Linked DNA regions of Homo sapiens: region 1 is linked to region 2. Evidence: fine-mapped expression QTL. A gene starts in region 2. The other region holds a variant in brackets. All regions are shown on one strand. Distances are from middle to middle.

Region 1 (12,524 bases), 25 kb before region 2:
GAGGATCGCTTGAGCCCAAGAGGCAGAGGATGCAGTGAGCCAAGATCTTGCCACTGCTCTCCAGCCTTGGTGACAGAATGAGACCCCCATCTCAAAAAAAAAAAAAAAAAAGGAATTGTGGTTTCCCCTACATATCTCCTTACCTCATGAGATTATCCTCAATGTATTTTCATCTTTTATTTCTTTTCCTTTTTTTTTTTTTTTTTTTTGAGACAGTCTCACTCTGTTGCCCAGGCTGGAGTGCAGTGGCGCAATCTCGGCTCACTGCAACCTCCGTCTCCCGGGTTCAAGGGATTCTCCTGCCTCAGTCTCCTGAGTAGCTGGGATTACAGGCATGCACCACCACGCCCGGCTAATGTTTGTATTTTTAGTAGAGACGGGGTTTCACCGTGTTGGTCAGGCTGGTCTCCAACTCCTGACCTTGTGATCCGCCTGCCTCGGCCTCCCAAAGTGCTGGGATTACAGGCGTGGGCCACTGCGCCCGGCCCTCTTTTATTTCTTATACAAAGCCCAGTTCCTAACACATAGGAAGTGATTGATAAACTTGTTGAAAGAATGAGGGACAGTTTTCCTCTCTAGCTTTCATGTTGCTTGTCTGAGAATAAAGGAATCAGAACAAGATGCCTGAAGTTCCTGCCAACTCTAAAATACTCTTTTCCAGTATGCATTAAGTAAATATTAGTTAAGTAAATAAGCAATACCCACCAAAAGAAAATCCCTTTAAAGGTGTGTCTTGAAAGAACATGAATCAATTTGTTTGAGTTTTCTTCTAGAAGCAGTTTGGTATGAGTTTTTGGAAGCTCTTAAATGTTTTGCCTTGCCTCTGGAAACTTTCAGAGACCATCTGAGATCAGCCAAAAATAGAGTTTAAGAAGAATTGCTTTAGGAAATCCTTCCAAAGAGTGTCTTGTCTTTCATCTCATTCAGATTCCTCAAATTAGGCAATTTGGAGACAATCTCTGTCTTGAAATTATGTAAATTACCCATCTCTGTTATTTGTCTTTCTCGGATATTTTCAAAAAAGAAACGTCTGTTTCTTGACACAAGGCAACTCTTTACGCATCTTTGAGGCTAACGCTAACGTTACTTCTCTGATGAGAAGAAATTTTACCCTGTGTCCTTTCTTCCTCTCCAGAGAGGCTGTCCTTAAGTGGACATTGTCAACCTCCTCAGAGAGTAGCAATTCTGTTTGAGGGCTTCAAGCCCCTGAGAAACTAATAGGACCAGAGATCTAGAAGTGGAACTTTTACAAACCATATGGGCTCATGCATCCCCAAAGTTCACAAACTCCTTAAAATTCTATTCACAATATCGTATGCATGCGTGCACTATTTTTTTTGTTGTTGTTGTTTGTTTGTTTGTTTGTTTGAGATGGAGTCTTGCTCTGTCGCCCAGGCTGGAGTGCAGTGGTGTGATCTCTGCTCACCGCAACCTCTGCCTCCTGGGTTCAAGCGATTCTCCTGCCTCAGCCTCCCCAGTATCTGGGATTACAGGTGCTTGCCACCATGCCCGGCTTATTTTTGTACTTTTAGTAGAGATGGGTTTTTGCCATGTTGGCCAGGCTGGTCTCGAACTCATGGCCTCAAGTGATCCGCCTGCCTCAGCCTCCCAAAGTGCTGGGATTACAGGTGTGAGCCACCACACCCAGCCTGCATGTGCATTTTCCTTCCCTCCTTCCTTCCTTCCTTCCTTCTTTCTTTCTTTCTTTCTTTCTTTTTTTTGAGATGGAGTCTTACTCTGTCACCCAGGCTGGAGTGCGGTGGCGCGATCTTGACTCACTGCAACCTCTGCCTCCCAGGTTCAAGCGATTCTCCTGTCTCAGCCTCCCGAGTAGCTGGAATCACAGGCGCCTGCCACTACACCTGGCTAATTTTTTTTTTTTTTTTTTTTTTTTTTTTTTTTTTTGAGACGGAGTCTCGCTCTGTCGCTCAGGCTGGAGTGCAGTGGCGTGATCTTGGCTCACTGCAAACTCCGCCTCCCGGGTTCACACCATTCTCCTGCCTCAGCCTCCCGAGTAGCTGGGACTATAGGCGCCCGCCACCACGCCCAGCTAATTTTTAATAGAGACAAGATTTCACCATGTTGGCCAGACTGGTCTTGAACTCCTGACCTCAGGTAATCCACTCACCTTGGCCTCCCAAAGTGCTGGGAATACAGGCGTGAGCCACCGCACCCAGCCACAGGAGCTTTTATGTTCAGATCATAACCAGGCGTGGTGGCTCACTCATGTAACCCTAGAACTTTGGGAGGCTGAAGTGGGAAGATTGCTTGAGGCCAGGGGAGTTGGAACCAGCATGGGCAACATAGCAAGACTCTGTCCCTATTTTAATTTTTTAATTTTATTTATTTATTTATTTATTTATTTTGAGACAGATTCTTGCTCTGTTGCCCATGCTGGAGTGCAATGCCATGATCTCAGCTCACTGCAACCTCTGCCTCCCGGGTTTAAGCGATTCTCCTGCCTCAGCCTGCCAAGTAGCTGGGATTACAGGCACGTGCCAACGCATCCAGCTAATTTTTGTATTTTTAGTAGAGACAGGTTTCACCATGTTGACCAGGATGGTCTCGATCTCCTGACCTCGTGATCCGCATGCCTCGGCCTCCCAAAGTGCTGGGATTACAGGTGTGAGCCACCGCACCCGGCCCCTATTTTAATTTTAAAAAGAAAACAAGATCAGGTCATACTTTGGTGCATTCTTTTTTTCTTTCTTTCTTTTTTTTTTTATTTGAGATGGAGTCTCGCTCTATCACCCAAGCTGGAGTGCAGTGCTGCAATCTCGGCTCACTGCAACCTCTGCCTTCCGGGTTCAAGCGATTCTCCTGCCTCAGCCTCCCGAGTAGCTGGGACTATAGGCACTTGCCACCATGCCCAGCTAATTTTTGTATTTTTAGTAAAGATGGGGTTTCACCATGTTGGCTAGGATGGTCTCAATCTCTTGACCTCGTGATCCGCCAGCCTCAGCCTCCCAAAGTATTGGGATTACAGGCGTGAGCCACCACGCCCAGCCTTTGGTATATTCTTTTAGGTTATGTTAAAGATAGATTCTTCAAGTCACAGATAGGAGTACTTGGGATCACCCCTCTGCCCCCACCAGTGGCCCTCCCTTAGGGGGTTCCTCAAATTCTTTGAACTTGCTGAAACCCAGCCTGCTGTGCTGACACAAGAGAAGCCCTGGGAGGATACCCGACGCCTGGCACCTCTGCCCTTATGTCCCTTTTTTTTCTGTTAGAATCCCATTTTGTTTTCTTTTTATAGATGTAGGGAGTACAGTGCAGTTTTGTTACATGGATATATTGAGTAGTGGTGGAGTCTGGGCTTTTAGTATAACCACGATCCGAATAGTGTACATTGTACCCATTGGGAAATTTCTCATCCCTCACCCACCTCCCACCCTCCCACCTTTCCAAATCTCCAATGTCTACTATTGCACTCTCTGTGTCCATGTGCACACATTATTTAGCTCCCACTTATAAATGAGAACATGCAGTATTTGACTCTGTCTCTGAATTATTTCACTTAAGGTAATGGCCTCTAAGGGTTCCATCCACATTGCTGCAAAAGATGTAATTTCATTCTTTTTAATGGCTGAGTAGTATTCCATGGTATAAATATGCCACATTTTCTTTATACAATCATCCATTGGTGGGCCCCTAGGTTGATTCCATATCCCTGCTCTTGTAAACAGTGCTGCGATAAACGTATCTTCAAAATAACAGCCTTGAAGCCCTAATTGGGCTCCTGAGAGGGCCACGTGAGACAGTGTGAAGAGCGAAATCACTATTCTGCCACAAGAGGGCACCCAAAGCCCAGACAGATGGGACGACGCGCTTCCTGCCTCCATTGGAATCAAGCGCATGACTGGATAGCAGAGGCTCCTTGGGCAGGGAGCCACAGCTTGAAGGTCCCAGTTATGCAACTGGCCCCAAGGCCCTTCTACCCCTTCCCCAGGGGACTTCACCAGCTCCTTTTAGGACAGAGTTTGTGTATGGTTCTTGCTGGCTTCAGTCCCTCCCGTAGAGGTGACCCTGAGTAGCTGGGATTACAGGTGCCAGCATATGCACCTGTAATCCCTCCTCCCTGGGGAAAATCTCTGCCCTGGATGGGTAAGATCCTGACCCTGCGTGAACGTGGCATGCGCTTCTGTTCTCCACTCCCTGGAGTTCCTCCTGAGGCCGTGCAGGATCCTGTCCAGTGCTCACAGGCATGAGCATGACTTCAGGGTTGTGAGCAGAGCCCTGCAGAGGTATGCATATGGCTATGGAGTGGTGACCTACTCGGACAGAAAGAATAAGGAAAGGATCCAGTAGCCAGGCCAAAAGGAAGAGGCACCAAGAAGGGCTGCAGCTTGAGGGTGGAGATTCCAGACTTCCAGATACTCTAGTGGGGGTACGATTTGGACCCAGGAGGCAGGTTGCAAATCTAAACCCATCAGAAGCATATGGACTCTTCTTTTGATTAGTTGTCAATGCGAAAAAATTTTTTTAATTTTTAAAAAGGGTATAGACTTAGACAAACTCAGAACTATTAAATTTATAATGTAGTTTGAAACATTTAAGGGAACATTGTACTAAACTGAGAACTATATAGATGTACGCAGGCCCAAGTCTGGCTTCCTAGCCTCAAATCTGGCAAATAAATAAGGTTAGCCTTCCTGAGACGGTAATCACAGATCACGGTCATACACTGCCCACTTGAGTAAAACCGTTCCCCTTGGGGACGAGTGTTCTTTTAACCCCAAGAAGGTTTGGAATCAATCTTTATGATGGCTTTTACCCTCTCAACTTAGCTAAGACGAAACCATATTTCTTGGAAATTAATCCCTGTATGGTTCTGGGTGAGGGTTGGCCACAAGAGAAATGTAAGATTTGAGAGGTAGGAAAACAGAATAGGAGCGGCCGTCGTGCTCTGAGGCCAGCATGGGGTGACAGTCATCTGCTGGCTCACCTTGTCTGCACGGATGGCAGCCAGACTGGCAGCTCTTCCAGCTCCCGTCAGATCGCCTCCTTCAGCTTCTCTAATTCTTGGCCACACAAGTGCAACTCCGTGGCAAGGAGTGCTAGGTCCTTCTGCAGACACCCATACCATCGGGGTGGGTGGTGGTGAGGCACAGACGCAGGCTCCGGATGGCCTTTGCCCTGCCCCCACTTCACATCCAGTGCTTCTCCCAACTGACCCATAGTGACCTCAGGTCCACCACAGATACGGAGGCCTCCAAAGACTCCTTCCCCAGCTGCCATGATTGATTAAGGTCTAATCTCTAAAATAAGTTCCTTATTCCATAACACTCATAGTGGTTTTGACTCTCTGGTCAAACCTTAACTGATAAAAATCAAAAGTGATGAAGCAAATCAAACTCATGCTAAGTTTCAAACAGGTTTTAACCACTGCATGCATTTGGTACTTAAAGTTTTTGTAATGCTTAAAAGAATCTGACATATATTAATACTTAAATAGGAAATGCATGAAACTACAGAAAAAAAAATTAAAAAAATTTTAAACAATTTGACATAGAAGTATTATAGATTAGCCTCATTATTATATTAATATTTAAAATGTATAATTGCCGGGCATGGTGGCTCATGCCTGTAATCCTAGCACTTTGGAAGACTGAGGCGGGCAGATCGCTTTGAGCCCAGGAGTTCAAGACCAGCCTGGACAACCTGGTGAAACCCTGTCCCTAGTAAAAATGCAAAAACTAGCTGGGCTTCATGGCGTGCGCCTGTAGTTCCAGCTACTCGGGAGGCTGAGGTGGGAGGACTGCTTGAGGCGAGGAGTTCGAGGCTACAGTGAGCCGTGATCACACCACTACACTCTAGCCTGGGCAACAGAGCCAGACCCTGTCTCACAAAACAAAA[G/C]AAACAAACAAACCACACAAACTTGCAACATCCTGCTTCTTGCAGCTCTCCCCATCCGGCCCACCCCATTCCTTTGGCGTGAAAATATGATGGGGTCTCCTCAGCCCTAGAAGCACCCACACCGTTCAACCTAAAGCTCCCACTGACTAGCTGAGCTCTCATAAAGGTGAGATTTGTCGCATACGCCTCCCATACACCTCTTCCTAGTAGATTTCTTCACTCTTTCCCTTCCATTCTGAGCACGGCCCCACTTAAGGAACTCTCAGCTCTCATGTTGCCCTATCCCAGTCAAGAAGGAAGTTGCTGGTGATCAAGTCATACTCCAGTGAACACTGACTGGCACCTCTTCTGCATCAAGTCCTAGCAGGGCATTCACCCGAGTTACCAAACATGGCTGCTCACACCCGCCCTCCGAGGCCAGCATCTGCATCCCCATGTGACAGTGGAAACAAACCCACGGAGCCTGAGCAACTGGGCAGCCAGCAAGTGACTGAGCAGAGAGACGGCCTTGGACGCAGGCCAAGCAGCACAGATTTACTCGAATCATCCTCCGCTCCTTCAGATTTTCACCAGCTGATTGATCCTTGGACTTCCCCCCCAGGCTTCTCTGACATCACCAGCCACCAGGACCCTGCCTATGCCTGTGGCCTGCAACATTCCTCTATGCACATCAAAGTAGGGAGCATCAGGCCGGGTGCGGTGGCTCACACCTGTAATCCTAGCACAATGAAAGACCGAGGTGGGCAGATAACTTGAGACCAGGAGTTCAAGACCAGCCTGGCCAACACGGCGAAACCCCATCTCTACTAAAAATACAAAACAATTAAGCAGGGATGATGGTGTGTGCCTGGGGTCCCAGCTACTTGGGAGGCTGAGGCATGAGAATTGTTTGAACCCGAACCCAAGGCTGAGGCAGAAGTTGCAGTGAGCCAAGATCGCGCCACTGCACTCCAGCCTGGGTGAGAGAACTCCAGCCTGGGTGACAGAGGGAGGCTCCATCTCCCAAAAAACAAAACAAAACAAACAAACAAAAAAAACAAGTAGACAGCATCAATTCTGGCCAACTTATGGGTAAAAGAGAAGGCTGCCACAGCCCTTGCCCTTTGGGAGTGCCTGTCCCTTCAGTAGCTGCCCCAAAAATCCTGCAGAAGAGAAGGGTCAGAGGAAGCACCTGTAATAAAGGGTGAGGCCCCACCAACCCACTCTCTTCCTCTCCTCTCCTAGCCGAGGGAGCCATCAGAGGCAAAGGGAGTGTGGGAAAGATTAGTCAGACATGTTTCCCTTTGTGTCACAGAGTCAAACTCTCCATCCGTGACTTCAGAAAAGTCACAAGAGAGCCCCAGCAACGGCCCACAGGGTGTCATAGCAACACGCCTACACCTCAAGGTGCCACCTTCCAACTCTGGAGAAAACAACTGCCTTCTTCAAATGTCAACTGCTACATGGGCAAAGAGCAACTTGAAAATGAAATTCGGGGCTGGGCGCAGTGGCTCACACCTGTAATCATTTTGAGAGTCCAAGGCGGGTGGATCACTTGAGCCCAGGAGTTCCAGACCAGCCTGGGCAACATGGCAAAACCACATGTCTTCAAAAAAATACAAAAAGTAGACAGGCATGATGGCATGCACCTGTAGTCCCAGCTACTCGGGAGGCTGAAGTGGGAGGATCACTTGAACCCGGGAAGTGCAGGCTGCAGTGAGCCGAGGTTGCACCACTGCACTCCCCACTCAGTCTGGGTGACAGAGCGAGACACTGTCTAAAAAAAAAAAAAGAAGAAGAAAAAAAGAAAGAAAGAAAATGAAATTGAAATTAGGGGCCGGGCACAGTGGCTCATGCTTGTAATCCTAGCACTTTGGGAGGCCGAGGCAGGCGGGATCACCTGAGGTCAGGAGTTTGAGACCAGCCTAACCATGATGGTAAAACCCAGTCTCTACTAAAAACACAAAATTAGCTGGGCATGTGTGGCGCATGCCTGTAATCCCAGCTATTCAGGAGGCTGAGGCAGGAGAATCACTTGAACCCAGGAGGTGGAGATTGCAATGAGCCGAGACTGCGCCATTGCACTCCAGCCTGGGCAACAAGAGCGAAACTCCATCTCAAAAAAAAAAAAAAATGAAATTAGGAAAAACAACTCAATTTACAATAGCATCAAAAAGAATAAATACTTAGGCATACATTGGCCAGGTGCGGTGGCTCACATCTGTAATTCCCACATTTTGGGAGGCCAAGGCAGGCGGATCACCTGAGGTCAAGAGTTCGAGACCAGACTGGCCGACATGATAAAACCCTGTCTCTACTAAAAATACAAAAAATTAGCCAGGCGTGGTGGCAGGCACCTATAATCCCAGCTACTCGGGAGGCTGAGGCTGCAGAATCGCTTGAACCTGGGAAGCAGAGGCTGCAGTGAGCTGAGATTGGGCCGCTGCACTCCAGCCTGGACAACAGAGTGAGACTCTGTCTCGAGAAAAAAAAAAAAAAACTTGGTATACATTTAACAAAGAAAGTGCAAGACTCATACACTGAAAACTAGAAAACATTGTTGAAAGACATTAAAGAAATCCTAAATAAATGGAAAGACATCTGTGTTCATGGACTGAAGGTAACAATATTTCCCAATTTCATCTACAGACTCTATGCAATCCCCATCGAAATTCTAACTGCCTTCTTTTTTGCATAAATGGACAAGCTGATCTTAAAATTCACATGCAAATGCAAGGGACACAGAGTAGCCAAAATAATTTTGAAAAAGAAGAACGAAGTTGAAGTCCCAATTTCGAAACTTACTATAAAGCTACAGTAATCAAAACCATGGTATTGACCTAAAGACAGACATACAGATCAATGGAATACAATTTAGAGTCCAGAAATCAACCCATACATCTATTGTCAATTAATTTCAGCAAGGGTGCCAAGACCATTCTGTGTGAAAAGAATAGTCTTTTCAAGAAGCAGTGCTAGGACAACTGCATATCCACAAGTAAAAGAATGAAGTTGGACCCCTACCTAAAACCAGATAAAAAATTTAACTCAAAATAAATCAAAGAACTAAATTTAAGAGTTAAAACTATAAAACTCTTAGAGGGAAATATAAGTGAAAATCTGTATGAGTTTGGATTCGGCAACAGTTTCTCAAATATGATGCCAAAAGCACAGGCAACAAAAGAAACAGTAGATAAACTGGACTTCATCAAAATGTGAAACTTTTTTTTTTTTTTTTGAGACGGAGTCTCGCTCTGTCTCCCAGGCTGGAGTGCAGTGGCGTGATCTCTGCTCACTGCAAGCTCCGCCTCCTGGGTTCACGCCATTCTCCTGCCTCAGCCTCCCGAGTAGCTGGGACTACAGGCGCCCGCCACCACGCCCGGCTAATTTTTTGTATTTTTAAGAGACGGGGTTTCAGCATATTGGCCAGGCTGGTCTCCATCTCCTGACTTCGTGATCCGCCCGCCTTGGCCTCCCAAAGTGCTGGGATTACAGGCATGAGCCACCATGCCCGGCCCAAAATGTGAAATTTTTATGCATCAAAGGGCACTATTAAGAAGGTAAAAAGACAACCCACAGTATGGGATAAATTTTTTTTTTTTTTTTTCTGAGACGGAGTCTCGCTCTATCGCCCAGGCTGGAGTTCAGTTGTGCGATCTCGGCTCACTGCAAACTCTGCCTCCCGGGTTCCACACCATGCTCCTGCCTCAGCCTCCCGAGTAGCTGGGACTACAGGCGCCCGCCACAACGCCTGGCTAAATTTTTTTTTTTTTTTTTTTTAATTTTTAGTAGAGACGGGGTTTCACTGTGTTAGCCAGGATGGTCTCGATCTCCTGACCTCGTGATCTGCCCGCCTCGGCCTCCCAAAGTGCTGGAATTACAGGTGTGAGCCCCCGCCCCGGGCCAGAGAAAATATTTTCAAATCACTTATCTAGTAAGGTCTAGAATTCATAATATCAAAAAGAAAAAAAAAAAAACTCTTGCAACTCAGCAACAAAAGACACAAATAATTTAATTTAAACACGGGCAAAGGACTTGAACAGACATTTCTCCAAAGAAAATATACAAATGGCGATGAGCACATAAGAAGATTCTCAACATCATTAGTCTTAGTGAAATACAAATCAAAACCACAATAAGATACCACTTCACACCAACTAGGGTAGTTATAACTTTTTCAAAAATAGAAATGTATCTGTGATATTTGCACATCTTTGTGAATATAGTAAAAGCACTGAATTGCACATTTTTAAATGATGAAAATGATTCATTTTATCTCAGTAAAAGTCTAGCCACTGAATTGTACATTTTTAAATTATTAAAATGATTCATTTCATCTCAGTAAAAGTCAACAGGCACCAGGGATCCCTTCAGTTTGGGCTGGAGGTCAGTGCAGTTTGGGGGGTCATCAAATGCTGAAGCAGAAGGAGTTTAGGGGTCACGCAAGTCCCAGCTGCCGTGTGACAAGTGAGGTAAAGGACACACCCTCTGTGGAGGTCTGAAGTCCCCTGACATTAGTAAGGGAGGGACAGCAGAGATCTCCCCTGTCACCACGAGGCTTTTTTCAGCCCCCAGGGCAGATGGCAAGTGTATACCATGTTTGGCACCCCTGTGATTGGCAGAGGCAATGCAGGTTGGGTCTGGAGGACAAGATTGCTGTGGGGGAGAGCCAAGGGTGGACTTCAGAACACTGGTGGTGACATAAGGGTAAAAAGGCCTTGGTCACAAAAGAGGAAACACAAACAGCGCGATCATGGAAAGACGCTCAGCCTCCCCGGGAATGGGAAGAGTGCACACTGAAACAATGAGACAGCACTTTCCTCCAATGAGATGCTCAAAAACAGTTTGCTAATACGAAAGCCTGGCAGGACGTGAGGAAATATGTGCTATCATTCCACTGCTGGTGGGAGTGTGAATTGGTAGGGCCACTCTGGAGGGCAACTCGCCAGCATCTGTTAAAGTGAAAAATGTGCACACCCTGTGACTCAGCGATTCCGATGCCCCGCACTTATTCTAGAGAGACACTCCCACATGCACAGCGAAGTATGAGATGTTTATGCAACACCACTTACGATAGTGCATTGTTGGGAACAACCTAAGTATTCGGGAACCAGGAGAATGGCTAAAAAGCCTCTGCACATCCATTCTCTATTTAACGAAACGAGTAGTTCTAGAAGTATAAAATGAAATGATCTCCAAGACATATAACTGGATTAAAAGCACGAAAAGCAAATCGTAGGATACATACTGTATATCATTTATGGAAAGAACAAAACAAACACAAAAATACAACTGTGCTGGGGCCGATGGACAATTGTGCCTGGCAGGCTGAGTCATGAGGCCAGTTAACAAGCCTTTCTCTATCTGCAAAAAGAAGTACTTTAGAAAAGCAATATAAGAAGAACATGGACCAGGGGCAGTGGTTCATGCCTGTAATCTCAGCACTTTGAGAGGCTGGGGTGGAAGGATTTCTTGAGGCCAGGAATTTGAGACCAGCCTGAGAAACATAAAGAGACCCAGTCTCTACATAAAATTAAAAATCAGTCAGGCGTGGTAGTGTGCACCTCTGGTCCTAGATACTCTGGAGGCTGAGGTAGAAAGATCTCTTGAGCCCAGGAATTCGAGGCTACAGTGAGCCATGATTGTGCCACTGCACTCCAGCCTGGGTGAGTAAGCAAGGCTGTCTCTAAAACACAAAAAGAAGAAGAACATGGAACTGCCAGACTTGGGCTATTTCATTTCCCAGAGATAATTTTTTACCGAGTGGAGAGAAAATGGGTGGTTTGTTCCTTAGGCTCTATTTCTTGCTCTGTGCTAGAATTATCGCAGCTTTGTGTAAGATTTCCTTCAGCAAATATAGGTAGCCTGCGATGCCCCAAATAAGAAAGGAAAAGACAAAGTCAGATGTTACTGCTGTCGGTCATCTCAGGTATGAAAAAGAGAGGCAGGCCCCTTGCCAGGGAGAAGGAACAACCAGATGCTGTCCATGAGGCACTCTCCTACCTCTCCTAAGACAGGGGTCGCCCTTGCTCTGAAAAATTCAAGCAGAGAATCCTCAGGAGGAGTGGGGCCAAGAAATCAGAGTAAGAAATATTTGATTATTGCTTAATAACATTTTAAGTAGAAAATAAAATAATTTTTTAAAACAGGCTGGCCGGGCGTGGTGGCTCACGCCTGTAATCCCAGCACTTTGGGAGGCTGAGGCAGGTGGATCACGAGGTCAGGAGATCGAGACCATCCTGGCCAACATAGCAAAACCCCATCTCTACTAAAAATACAAAAATTAGCTGGGCATGGTGGCATGCACCTGTAATTCCAGCTACTCGGGAGGTTGATGCAGGAGAATCGCTTGAACCTGGGAGGCGGAGGTTGCGGTGAGGCAAGATCATGCTATTGCACTCCAACCTGGTGACAGAGCGAGACTCTGTCTCAAAACAAAAACAAAAACAAACAAACAAACAAACAGGCCGGGCATAGTGGCTTACGCCTATAATCCCAGCACTTCAGGAGGCCGAGATGGGCGGATCACCTGAGGTCAGGAGTTCAAGACCAGCCTGACCAACATGGTGAAACCCTATGTCTACTAAAATATAAAAATTAGCCAGATGTGGTGGGGGGCGCCTATAATCTCAGCTACTCGGGAGGCTGAGATGGGAGAATTGCTTGAACCCAGGAGGTGAAGGTTGCAG
Region 2 (8,000 bases):
TCACTTGAGTCCAGGAAGTGGAGGCTGCAGTGAGCCGTGACTGTACCACTGCACTCCAGCTTGGGAGACAGAGTGAGCAGAGTGAGACCCTGTTTCCAAAAAAAAAAAGAAAACAAAAGCTTTTCCATTGCAAATCAACCAAAAAGGAACGTCTTTAATACACAAGAAATATTCTTCAGTCTACTTAACTTAAAAATGTAACTGTAATAGATGCTTTTCTCTTGACAGCGGCCCCGGCAGGGTTGGAACTTTTCCTAGTCAAAACCCCCCTACTCACTCTGCAGACCCTTCCTGAAGGTCTTCGCCCCATACTGAGCCCATCTTCAGTCCCTTCACTTGTTCCAAACTAGCCCAATCCATGACCCTTCTCTGGGAGCTCAGCCAATAGATCCCAAAGTACCACAGCAGCACCTGGCTGCAGAAGGACCCCCGGGAAATGCAGTCAGGGGTGAGAAGATGGGTGGGCTGAATGAGCTCGGCCCTCTCTGGGCCTTAGTGCTGGCATCTATGAGATGAGGACATGCCTGAAGTCAGCCTGGAATTTTGAGCCCAGGTTATACCTGGTAAATAGAACTCCCAGGTCTCCGGATACTCACCACTAAAACAATAGCACCTCATTGTTTTTGTTTTGTTTTGTTTTGTTTTTTAATTATACTTTAAGTTCTAGGGTACATGTACACAATGTGCAGGTTTGTTACATAGGTATACATGTGCCATGTTGGTGTGCTGCACCCATTAACTCATCATTTACATTAGGTATATCTCCTAATGCTATCCCTCCTCCCTCCCCACACCCCACGACAGGCCCCAGTGTGTGATGTTCCCCTTCCTGTGTCCAAGTGTTCTCATTGTTCAATTCCCACCTACGAGTGAGAACACATTGTTTTTAACCCTCCCCAGCAGCTTCTTTAACCCCTCCATTTCCCTTTTGGCGGAGACCCTTGTCATCACTCCTCTCTACCACCAGTGCTCTCCCCTCCTGCACTGTCCCAGGCTTCCTCATTCTTCCCTTGCAGGTCCTTATCCAACATGGCTCACAATTCCTGGGAAGCCACAAGGAAACCAAATTCTAGTAGCAACTCAGAGTCAGCATTCATTAGCAGGTCACAGGGCCATAAGGATGCCAAGAAGGAATTTGTCCCTCTCCTTGTCCTGACAAAAGGCATAAGTAGAAGAAAATTGTTAGGTTTGGTTATGACCTTTGACATTCTCTCTTTGACATCCTCCCTTTCTGCACCCCTCTTCCACCTGTCAGGGCACCTAGGGCTCCCCGGGTCCCCACAAGTGTCTGCCCTAAGGCCCACCAGGCTTTCTTGCAGCCTGTCCCACATCTGGGTGTCACTGCCTTCCTCTGAATCACCCTCCTCTCAAACCAGCCGCCAGCGAGCCCAGCCCAGCCCAGCTAGTGCCCTACCACACCCGCCCCCAGGATAATTAACACCCAGCCACCCAGCATCGGACCTCTACACTTGAGCAAAATGTATATTTTAAAGGCAAATTCTCACGCCTGTAATCCCAGCACTTTGGGAGGCCAAGGCGGGCGGATCACGAGGTCAGGAGATTGAGACCATCCTGGCTAACACGGTGAAACCCCGTCTCTACTAAAAATACAAAAAATTAGCCAGGTGTGGTGGCACACACCTGTAATCCCAGCTACTAGGGAGGCTGAGGCAGGAGAATCACTTGAACTCAGGAGGCGGAGGTTGCACTGAGCCGAGATCGTGCCACTGCACTCCAACCTGGGCGACAAAGCAAGACTCTGTCAAAAAACAAACAAACAAAATAAAGGCTAAGTAACTGTAATCAAGTAACTATTTATTATTTATTTATTTTAGTGTATCCACAGGTTGTGCAGCCATCAACACTATCTAATTCTATAACATTTTCGTTACCCCAGAGAAACTTGTACCCCTTAGCAATGACTCCCCATTTCTTCCCCCCAACCAACCCCAGCCCCAGCCCCAGCCCCTGGGAATCCCTAATATACTTTGTTTTGTTTTTTGTTGGTGGTGTTTGAGACAGGATCTCACTCTGTCACCCAGGCTGGAGCGCAGTATCATGATCTCAGCTCACTGTAACCTCCACCTCCCGGGCTCAAGCGATCCTCCCACCTCAGCCTCCCCAGTAGCTTGGGCCTACAGGTGTGCACCACCACACCCAGCTAATTTTTGTATTTTTTGTAGAGACGGGGTTTCACCATGTTGGCCAGGCTGGTCTCAAACTCCTGAGCTCAAGCAATCCACCCACCTCAACCTCCCAAAGTGCTGGGATTACAGGCGTAAGCCACTGCACCTGGCTATTTTCTTTCTTTCTTTTCTTTTTTTTTTTTTTTTGAGACGGAGTTTCACTCTGTTGCCCAGGCTGGAGTGCAGTGGCGTGATCTCGGCTCACTGCAACTTCCACCTCCCGGGTTCAAGCAATTCCCTGCCTCACCCGGCTATTTTATATTTGTTGATCTGCTGCTGGTTATGCCTGTGAGCCAAATTTGTACAAATTCTTAAGCTTTACAATCATGCGTGCCTCTCTGTACGTATATTATACTTTAATTAAAAGTTATTAAAGTATTGGGGCCGAGCACAGTGGCTCACGCCTGTAATCCCAACACTTTGGGAGGCTGAGGCTGGTGCATCACCTGAGGTCAGGAGTTTAATACCAGCCTGGCCAATACAGTAAAACCCCGTCTCTACTAAAAATACAAAAAATTAGCCGGGTGTGGTGGCACACACCTGTAATCCCAGCTACTTGGGAGGCTGAGGCAGGAGAATTGCTTGAACCCGGGAGGCAGAGGTTGCAACGAGCCAAGGTCACGCCATTGCACTCCAGCCTCGGCAACAAGAGCGAGACTCCATCTCAAAAAAATAAATAAAAAATAAAAAATGTATCAGGGAGTACAAGAGAAAGTCATATAAGCTCTTTCTACTTTTCATGGTTTCTATGTCTGAACCCATGAATCTTCCTTCTGAAAGGTCCAACTTTCTTCTTTAATAACAATAATAATGGCAAAGGCATTGGGGGACCGTGAGCAAAGGGCAGGCCTTTGCAGGGGTGGGAATGGAAAGGGAAGCACGTCCCTAGAGGTGGGCCTGGGATGGGGGTTGGGGGATGAAGCAAGTGGACCTTGAAGGTCTCCACAGGTCTGAGTGTCCTATGCTCCCTGGGCCTCTCTTCCCCCAGGTCTTCTCGTTCGCAACTGCACCATCACTGCCAATGCTGAGTGTGCCTGTCGCAATGGCTGGCAGTGCAGGGACAAGGAGTGCACCGAGTGTGATCCTCTTCCAAACCCTTCGCTGACCGCTCGGTCGTCTCAGGCCCTGAGCCCACACCCTCAGCCCACCCACTTACCTTATGTCAGTGGTAAGTTCCAGGCAACTCTCTGTGCCATCACGTGGGGTAGCGGTGATACCCCAACCAGTACTCCCCACTCCTACCCCTAGATAAGGTCAGCCTGTTTCTGCCTTCCCATCCCATCCAGCACCTCTCAGGCCTTCAGATGTGCCCTATGGGGTCCCCTGCTGCTACTCATTCTGTCTCTGTTTTTCCAGAGATGCTGGAGGCCAGGACAGCTGGGCACATGCAGACTCTGGCTGACTTCAGGCAGCTGCCTGCCCGGACTCTCTCTACCCACTGGCCACGTGAGTTTTCTCCTTAATCCCCACCGCTAGAGAGAATGCATACACGAGGGGCCAGGAGGGAAGCCAGACAGAAAGCTCCTAGGATTAGGGATAAGAGGAGGGGAAAAAGCAGAGTCCACTGTTTAGGAGAGGAGTTGGCCAACGGTGGCGGGTGGGATAGAATAAGGTGGGGGAAAGGGGAGAGGCAAGGTGACAGGAGGGCTGGGCTGAGGGAGCCAAGGGCTAGACCCTCCCCTAACCCCTGTGTGTCCCCTCCTATTACAGCCCAAAGATCCCTGTGCAGCTCCGATTTTATTCGCATCCTTGTGATCTTCTCTGGAATGTTCCTTGTTTTCACCCTGGCCGGGGCCCTGTTCCTCCATCAACGAAGGAAATATAGATCAAGTAAGAGACAGAACACAGGCCTCCGGTCCTGCCCCTGCACCACACCCCACTGGCTCAACCCCACTGCCCACGCCTGGAATCTCACTGAAACCCACCAGCTCCACTTCACCAGCCTTGGTCCTACCCCTTCTCTCCCCTTAGCTGGCGTGCTCCTGACACCCCTCCCCCAAGCGCACCCGCCTCTACCCATCTCCTTCTCCCGTCTCCCCCTGCCCCCACTGCTGGCCAAGACTCATCGGATCTCCTTCTGCAGACAAAGGAGAAAGTCCTGTGGAGCCTGCAGAGCCTTGTCATTACAGCTGCCCCAGGGAGGAGGAGGGCAGCACCATCCCCATCCAGGAGGATTACCGAAAACCGGAGCCTGCCTGCTCCCCCTGAGCCAGCACCTGCGGGAGCTGCACTACAGCCCTGGCCTCCACCCCCACCCCGCCGACCATCCAAGGGAGAGTGAGACCTGGCAGCCACAACTGCAGTCCCATCCTCTTGTCAGGGCCCTTTCCTGTGTACACGTGACAGAGTGCCTTTTCGAGACTGGCAGGGACGAGGACAAATATGGATGAGGTGGAGAGTGGGAAGCAGGAGCCCAGCCAGCTGCGCCTGCGCTGCAGGAGGGCGGGGGCTCTGGTTGTAAAACACACTTCCTGCTGCGAAAGACCCACATGCTACAAGACGGGCAAAATAAAGTGACAGATGACCACCCTGCAGCTCTCCAGCTTCCTCTCTGAAATCCCAGTCCCAAAATCCAGTTTCCTGGCCGCCTCCTGGCTCAGGTCAGGATCTGGCAGAGGAGGTTTCTCAGCCGGTTATGTTGGGGCCTGCTTAAGGGCGGGGGTGAGAAAGGTCCCCAGGCTACTGTGGATCCTGTGTCTGACTTCAGATCCCCTTTTCCCACAGTTATAGCTCCACTTTTTTGGGACAGGTGGGGAGCAAAAGGGTGCAGAGGTCAGGTCTTGAAATCACCAGGGGATTTCCGGGTGAGGTGGGTGGTGAGAAAGGAAACAGCAAGCAGGGCTCTGGCAGCTGCTGCAGACGGCTTCACACAGGGACGCGGGCTGCCATCTTGCTCTAAGTGAAAGTGAAAGAAAAGTCGGCAGCAGAGGGAACAGGGAAGAAACCTAAAGGCTGCAGGCTGCCAGGTGTGCTTGGAGAGCCCCCTTCTTCCGCCGGGCCTCGCAAGCAGCGTAGGACTGTGGAGAAGGGCGGTGGGCAAGGAGGGAACTCGAGAGCAGCCTCCATGGGCACACAGGAGGGCTGGTGCCTGCTGCTCTGCCTGGCTCTATCTGGAGCAGCAGAAACCAGTGAGTCTGGGAGTCGGGGAGAGCTGGCTGGGAGAAGAGCTACTGAAGCCCCAGGGTGCCACCCTCCCCGAGATTCCAGAAGAGCAAAGGGGCCGGGGATGACCCCATCGCCTTCTAAGCCCAACAGGGGAAAGGCTCAGCGGCTGGCAAAGGAAGGAACCAATAGTGTGTGTGGAGGGAGGGTGGGGACTCCACAGGGAAAATGCTAAAGAGGGGCTGCCTCTGTGGCTGTGGTCAGGAGCCACTGTCCTACAGAGAGGGCACTGGCCTGGGAGCTGACACTTCAGAAGAGGAAAGGACTCCCCAGGTGAGGAAATCACTTGGAAGGTGACCTTGAAGGCGGGGGAGGGGAAGGCTACCCGAAATGGGAGAAAGCAGTGCAGGCTGTCAGTGCCCCAGCAACAGTAACTGTCCAGTCTCCTCTCTCTGCGGTGGCACTTGCTTGTTTTCTGAGAATTCCTTTGACTGAAAAGATAGTCTTTTATTCAACAGTTGGAAATGCAAGCATAAACTCCTCTGAGCAAGGCAAATCCAGGACTTTAACTCTCACCAAGAAGTATTTGCCTGGACTAGCAGGTGCTCTCCAGAAAGCTGGTTTGGGGATGACGGGAGAATAGAGGGACACAGAAACAGCTAGGATCTTGGATGGCAACTTTTACCCTTTGATGACTCCACAGCTTGAGGGCGGGGGCAGGAAGCAAGTGTGGAGTAGCTTTCTGGGGAAGGCGGTGCTCACCCCAGCCTTTGTCTGCAGAGCCCCACCCAGCAGAGGGGCAGTGGCGGGCAGTGGACGTGGTCCTAGACTGCTTCCTGGCGAAGGACGGTGCGCACCGTGGAGCTCTCGCCAGCAGTGAGGACAGGGCAAGGGCCTCCCTTGTGCTGAAGCAGGTGCCAGTGCTGGACGATGGCTCCCTGGAGGACTTCACCGATTTCCAAGGGGGCACACTGGCCCAAGATGACCCACCTATTATCTTTGAGGCCTCAGGTAAAAGCCTTCCACCTGTGTCCTTGGTCCTCCCGGGCTCCCTCCACCAGGACAGCCCAGGTCCCGATTACAGCCACACATACTGCCTCCCGTTGGCCCTGGTGTTCTCACGCTAATTTGCCCTCTGTGTGTGCCCTGCTTCTCCCCAGTGGACCTGGTCCAGATTCCCCAGGCCGAGGCCTTGCTCCATGCTGACTGCAGTGGGAAGGAGGTGACCTGTGAGATCTCCCGCTACTTTCTCCAGATGACAGAGACCACTGTTAAGACAGCAGCTTGGTTCATGGCCAACATGCAGGTCTCTGGAGGGGGACCTAGCATCTCCTTGGTGATGAAGACTCCCAGGGTCACCAAGAATGAGGCGCTCTGGCACCCGACGCTGAACTTGCCACTGAGCCCCCAGGGGACTGTGCGAACTGCAGGTAAGAAAATGAAAAGCAAGGCCAGGTGTGGTGGCTCACGCCTGTAATTCCAGAATTTTGGGATACCGAGGTCGGTGGATCACCTGAGGTCAGGAGTTTGAGATCAGCCTGGTCAACACGGTGAAACCCCGTCTCTACTAATACCAAAATTAGCCGGGCATGGTGGCGGGTGCCTGTAATCCCAGCTACGAGGGAGGCTGAGGCAGGAGAATCGCTTGAACCCGGAAGGCAGAGGTTGCGGTGAGCCGAGATCACACCATGGCACTTCAGCCTGGGCAACAAGAGCGAAACTCCATCTCAAAAAAAAAAAAGAAAAGAAAAGAAAAGCAAGTCACAGAAAGTTTTGCTTTTCTAAAGTGGTAAGATATGGGGCACAGAAGAAGAAAGGGAACAAATCCACCTCCATCCACACTGGTCACCTCAGGGCACCCCTAGGCCTTGGTCCTTTCTTCCTAAAAACCCCTGAGTCAGGCCAGGTGCGAAGGCCCATGCCTGTAATCCCAGCACTTTGGGAGGCCAAGGCAGGTGGATCACCTGAGGTCAGGAGTTCAAGACCAGCCTGGCCAACATGGTGAAACCCCCTCTCTACTAAAATACAGAAATTAGCCGGGCATGATGGCAGGTGCCTGTAATCCCAGCTACTCAGGAGACTGAGACGGGAGAATCACTTGAACCTGAGAGACGGTGGTTGCAGTGAGCCGAGATTGCGCCACTGCACTCCAGCCTGGGCAGCTGAGTGAGACACCGTCTCAAAAACAACAACAACAACAAAAACCCTGAGTCCACAAGAGAATGCTTCGCAGCCCCTACCTGAACGTCCCCAGGCACACAGACAACCTGTGTTATTTCCAAAATGGAGATCGTTCTCATCTCACTGGGCTGCCATGAGGAAATAAGACACATGATGCTATTCTGTACATGGGTGCTGTCCACTGTAGTCTTATCGAGCCAAAACCCGGTTTTCTCCCAGTGAAATGCTAGGCTGCTCTGGTGCTTCAGGGGTAAAGCTCAGGGATGCATCATTTGTTCATGATCTTATTAGTAAACCCAGTACTTGCCCTCTCCAGCTCAGCACATCCTCGAGGGCACAAGAAATTGAGAACATGATGACAGGGTTCCCCAGAGCCCATTAATCCAATACTCTGTGCCCTGCTTCTTTGAGTCTCCAAGAAGAAACAGCCAAGTCCAGAGAAAATTAGGGGCAACCGTCCTATCCTTGGAAAACCCCAGAACACTCTAACCTCTCTGTGGTCCAACCTAAATCTATCCTGACCCATTAGAA

What was found. PIP is the estimated chance that this variant, and not a neighbour inherited with it, causes the effect.
Region 1: its variant is fine-mapped to the expression of CD27-AS1 in whole blood (TOPMed, PIP above 0.99).

What each region holds. Positions count from the first base shown.
Region 1 is chr12:6,419,927-6,432,450 of GRCh38, forward strand. No RefSeq gene overlaps it. Among named protein-coding and RNA genes, the nearest start is that of CD27, 19 kb to the right of the region's middle. RefSeq lists enhancers at 3,541-3,590, 6,902-7,011, 7,052-7,291. The variant G/C (reference allele first, on the strand shown) is at 5,857.
Region 2 is chr12:6,446,999-6,454,998 of GRCh38, forward strand. It overlaps CD27-AS1 (CD27 antisense RNA 1), which reads right to left and starts at 4,519. Exons shown (of 6, transcript NR_015382.2): 1 at 3,343-4,519; 2 at 1,642-1,739; 3 at 1,039-1,152; 4 at 1-89. It overlaps CD27 (CD27 molecule), which reads left to right. Exons shown (of 6, transcript NM_001242.5): 3 at 3,175-3,354; 4 at 3,543-3,632; 5 at 3,897-4,016; 6 at 4,270-4,715. The coding sequence ends at 4,394. TAPBPL (TAP binding protein like) reads left to right here and starts at 5,044. Exons shown (of 7, transcript NM_018009.5): 1 at 5,044-5,314; 2 at 6,069-6,299; 3 at 6,449-6,718. The coding sequence starts at 5,251. RefSeq lists enhancers at 3,854-4,063, 4,154-4,313, 4,744-5,343.